2 separate regions of the Homo sapiens genome follow, and region 1 is linked to region 2. A link means that fine-mapping ties the variant in region 2 to the expression of a gene that starts in the linked region. Tissue or cell type: whole blood. Region 2 holds a variant in brackets; the other region holds the start of a gene. All regions are shown on one strand. Distances are from middle to middle.

Region 1 (2,749 bases), 38 kb after region 2:
TGAGCATAATACTCCTTAAGTAGTTAGATGAGCCCAGAATAGAGTAGAAACACTAACTTCCTGGATCTAGACACTAAGTTTCTATATTACAACCTAAAAACAGTATTAGTTGTGTTTAAGTGGCCATGTTACACATTGATTCAACAGAGCAAGTGGTCAACTAAAACCCAAAGAAATTGTTTACATAAATAAAATCTTCTTAGCCAGTAGCTACATACAGTAGAACTGAGCTCAAATTGAAAGCTGCTATTAATCAAATGCAACAATGGATATAAAAAGTACCTAGAAATGTACAAACAGTATAAAGAGGAACAGCAGAATGCTGATAATTGTTCAAGTTGCGTTAAGTGTACATGAGGGTTCAATTTATTATCCTACTTTTGTCTGCGTTTGAAATTTTCCACAATAAAATTTAAAAAATATATACATAATATTGTACAAGCCTTCAACAGCTCTATTTCTTGAAAATCTGTTATCTCCTCCCTGCTTCTTTTTCCAGCCTTATTTCCCATCTTAACCTCTCTATTCTCCAACTACATTGGACTCGACTCTTTTTTTCTTTTTCATTCCATAAACTTGCTGTGCCTCCATGGTTTAATATATGATGTTTATGGAATCTTCCCCCATTTACCAAAACCCTACCTTTCTGCAAAGCTGAGTTTAAATGTTACTTCTGTGAAGGCACTCTACCAAAAACTAAGAACATAGAAGTTGGCGACAAATGCTTAACCAAAGTAAATGAAACAACTTTTGGGAGACTGGCTTGCCCAAGGATCACAGAGTTCATAAATGGTAGAGCTGAGATTAGAATACGCGTCTCCTGAATCCAAATCTCATCTTTCCATTATCGTAAAATAGTTCAGTGTTTGTTGCTCACACATCAAATGCAAACATGTTTCTCTTTTGCCCCAGTAGGTGCGTGGAGGAAGAGGAGAAAGAAGTAAGAAAGATAGCAAAAATTGAAGAAATGAGAAGGGGAAGTTGCAGACTGCCTCATTTTCACAATGGGATCTTTCTATCCAAGAAGAAATGATCAGAAAACAACTCTCTGCCTCAGACAAATGGCGACTGACTCATTTATACATTCATTCATTCAACATTCTGAGTGCCTACTATGTTCCAGGACCTGAACACACCGCTAGAGACACAGGGATGAACAAAACACAATCCCTACCCACAAAAAGCTCCTTGCCTAGTGGAACTACTACCTTTTTAACAGCAGTAACTTTAATATCTTGAGATTTCTTGAGAGGAGACCCAGTAACCAATTTTCAAAGCCAGGCTCACAGACCAGCAGCCCGGAGGTCCCAGCCCAGCTCCACCACATCCAGGGCAGTACCTCGCAGCTCTCAGTAGATCGGATCTTGTCTCCCGGCTTAGCGCCGGGGAACTCACCGCGCACTAAGAGCGGAACGTGAACTTCAGTCTCCCCTCGCGTTCCTCCCCTTCCTTGCTGACGTCATCCAGGAGAGCCGCAGACTGGAAACAACGCTACTAACGGCACTTCCTCATCACGTGACGAGTCACGCCCCTCCTTCCGCGTGGTCCCTCCCCCTCAGGCCGCGGTCGCGATTACGCTCTCTACGGCCTGCGACCGCAGGGCCGTTGCGGGCTGGAGACACGGCGCCGACTGGAACCGGAGGAGCTCTAGGCCAAATGGTTGGGCCAGCCAGGATCCCAGGACCCTTCGCCGCTCGAGACCGGAGAGAGGAAACGAAACAGGCGGGAACCCGTGGGGGAGGGAGGGAACTAGCGGAAGGTGTCATGGCGGCCGCGCTCTTGAGTCACGTGCCCAGGGCCCGCCTTGCTACTTCCGGTCACGTGCCCTCAGACTCCTCGCAGCCAGCGATGGAGGCGAGACCCCCTAGTAACAGAGGCGGTGGCTACTGCTGCGGCCACTGGGTTTCGGCCTCTTCCCAGCAGCGGCTCTAAGAAGCGCAGCGGAACTCGACCGGATCCAACCCAGTTAGTTACTTCCTGTCTAGAGTTGTAGCTTCCACCTGGTAAGTTTAGACCGAAGAATGCAGGCGGGCGGGTGGGTGGGCGGGTGAGGAGCTGACAGGCCTGGGGGCCGCTGGACGGCGTGGATTCTACCCCTGTTCCCAGCGTCGCTGTCGCCGTCCTCCCAACGCCCAAGCCTGGCGTCTTGTTTGCCCTTATCCCGAGGCGAGGAAGAGGCGACCCCTAATCTACTTGTCTAAAGGAAACCTGCTCTTAAATTGAGAGCAGGTTTACCCAAAGCCAGGATCAGATTTGGCTTATGAGAATGAAGTGGAGGCCTCTCCCAGACAGAGAAGCCCTTCCCGTCAGGAAATGTGCTGTTGAGTCTGGGATTCTGTAAGAGAAAAGCTGTCACCTTGTTGTCTGCACACCTTTTGCTTCCACCTGTCAATCTTACCTCTCTTAAAAACCTTAACACGTGCCAGTCCACACACTCCTAGTTTTGGTCATTTGATTGTCGTGTAATGATGAAAAATAGACCATGAGTACCTGGATATATGTAATTATTTTGTAAATCCCCCAGTGTTCTCAAAGGCCAAATTAAATAAGGAGGTGACTTTTCTTATTTTTTTTTAAGAGACAGAGTCTTGTTCTGTCGTCCTGGCTGGAATGCAGTGGCGTGATAATAGCTCACTGTAACCTCGAATTCCTGGGCTCAAGCGATTCTCCTGCCTAGACCTCCCAAAGCGCCAGAATTATGCTACAGTGCCTGGCCCCAAATGACTCCTAAACTCCAATTTTAGCATCA
Region 2 (2,500 bases):
GTATATACTTATAAAGTATGCTAAGCACTATGAAAAAAAAGAACAAGGAAGCATCAGAGAGAATGGCTGATTCTGCCTGGAAGATCTGAGAAGGGCTCTATGAGGAAGTGACATTGAAGCAGAAAGCTAAAAGATGAGACAAGCTTAGAGGACATATGCATGGGGCCCACATAATGTGAAAACTTGGAGTAGGAGCCATCAGAAATAAGGGGCCTGCATTTCTGATAAAGGAAACATGGAAGACAATGTGACACAGGAAAGAACTTGACGAATTCAAGGAATTTTTCTTTTCCTTTTTGTTTTGAGACCAAGTCTTGCTCTGTTGCCCAAGCTGGAGTGCAGTGGTGCGATCTCAGCTCACTGCAACCTCCACCTCCCAGGTTCAAGCAATTCTCCTGCCTCAGCCTCTCAAGTAGCTGGGATTACAAGCATAAGCCACCATGCCCAGTTAATTTTTGTATTTTTAGTAGAGATGGGGTTTCACCATGTTGGCCAGGCTGGTCTCAAACTCCCGACCTCAGGTGATCTGCCCACCTCGGCCTCTGAAAGTGCTGGAATTACAAGCGTGAGCCACCGCGCCTGGCCAGAATCATCTTTAATTAATGGGAAATTAAAAAAAAAAAAAAAAAAGAGCCTAAGCACAAATTTTGGAGGAAGTCCTTGGTCTGAACCCCAGCTCCAGCATTTACAATTAGTAGCTGTGTGACTTTGGGCCAATTAACTGTCCCTTCTGTACCTCAGTTATCTGGAAAGTGGAAATAATAGTAACTATCCCCAGAGTTTGTTATCTCATTTAAAACAACATATGGAAAGCACACAGTATAGTGCCTAACACATAGTAGGCACTCATGAAATAGAAAAGTTGCCTATAGTTTATTCTTAATTGTGATTTCATAACATATCAAGGGCTATAGGTAAAAAACAAAAACAAAAACAAAAACTCCACAAATGTGACAACTAAGTGGAATCACATATTAAATATATGATCATTGAAAGGTTCACCAAATTTTTTTGTTGAGAGGTCTGGAGTAACTTCTAAAAATTGACAACCAAGAGTAACCAGTTAGGATTGACATACCATTGTCCCCTTC[C/T]ATCAGGCTCATATCATTCAGATACACAATATTGGTGAAGGCCTCTCTTCTTCTCTCCAGCTCCAAACAGAGAATTAGATATCCAGGCCAGAAACTTTAAAGAGACCGAAGTTGAAGAAAGGAATAAAAGGCCATGAATTTATCTGGAGCTGTGCTGCCCAAAACAGTAGACACAGTCACATGTGGCTATTTCAATTTAAATTAATTAAAAGTAAATAACATCTGAAAGTCAGTTTTTCAGTTAATATATTCACATTTCAAGTAGTCAATGGCTACATGTGGCTAGTGGCCACCATTGGACAGTTCAGTAGAATATCTCCACTATCACAGAAAGTTCTATTAGATGACCCTGATCTAGGGAAAAAAAAAAAACAAAAAACCTAGCAACAAATGCTGACATTTGAGGCCAAGCTCCAATTATAAGGCATTTAAGCTTTATTCAATTTATAAACTTTAAAATTCAACACAAACCTAGCATATTTCTTCTCCAAATATGTAAACCTTGGAAGTCTTCCTTGACTCTTCCCCCTCCTTCATTTGCTATATCCAGTATCAGCATGTCCCACTGCATTTTCCTTTGAAATGCCCACTGGATGTGCTCCTTTTGCTGCCCTACTAATCACCAATCCACTCATATCTGAATTACTCCAACAGCTTCCTAGCTGGCCTTCTGTCTCCAGCCTTCTCATATATGACATCAGAAATGATCTCTAGAAAGCTCCACTTTCATTACACAATTTTTGCACCAAGTAGTTCAGTCTAAAAGGGTCTCTACTGATAACTAAATTATTCTACCAGCTTTCAAGGTCCTGCATGATCTTGTCACCCACCACCTGGCCAGACTCAGCCCTCATTACAATGAACAAATATGTATCAAGTGCCTACCACTATACAAATTAGATATAGACATTATGAGGGAAAAGAAAGACACAAGTTGCTATCTCCAAAAGATTATAATCCAGTTGGAGCCATAAGCCAGTATCACCAGGCAATAAATAACTGACTGAAGTGTGACATGGATAATAAGCAATGCCAGTTTTCCACGCCCTTGCTCTGTTTCTCTCACCTAACTCACCCTCTCCTGGCTCCTTTATAAATACAAATCCTACCCAGGTTTTAGGTTTTACCTCCAAAATCTCACCTCCTCCTTGAGTCCTTCACCAGCGATGCTATTGAGCCCATTTTGATCTCTCTCTTACTGTATTAATTATAAAAGTCTATCAATTATAATTGGTATCACATAATCTGGTGCTTAATTAAATACTATCTACATGCCTGAGAACTGGGGCTGGCAACTAAGCAGAGGGAGTGGAGGGGAATTAGCTAAGGCTATTTAAAAAAAAAAAAAAAAGAAAAAAGCAAGAAATTTAAATGGAAAAAAGATGTTTAATTTACTATCACTTAAAACA

Evidence for each region. PIP is the estimated chance that this variant, and not a neighbour inherited with it, causes the effect.
Region 1: it holds the start of HPS5, and the variant in region 2 is fine-mapped to the expression of HPS5 in whole blood (TOPMed, PIP 0.92).

The regions. Positions count from the first base shown.
Region 1 is chr11:18,320,738-18,323,486 of GRCh38, forward strand. It overlaps HPS5 (HPS5 biogenesis of lysosomal organelles complex 2 subunit 2), which reads right to left and starts at 1,403. Exons shown (of 23, transcript NM_181507.2): 1 at 1,209-1,403. It overlaps GTF2H1 (general transcription factor IIH subunit 1), which reads left to right and starts at 1,830. Exons shown (of 15, transcript NM_005316.4): 1 at 1,830-2,003. RefSeq lists enhancers at 901-1,850, 988-2,187, 1,078-1,377, 1,388-1,807.
Region 2 is chr11:18,282,717-18,285,216 of GRCh38, forward strand. HPS5 (HPS5 biogenesis of lysosomal organelles complex 2 subunit 2) reads right to left here. Exons shown (of 23, transcript NM_181507.2): 21 at 1,079-1,185. Among named protein-coding and RNA genes, the nearest start is that of SAA1, 18 kb to the left of the region's middle. RefSeq lists an enhancer at 1-36. The variant C/T (reference allele first, on the strand shown) is at 1,092.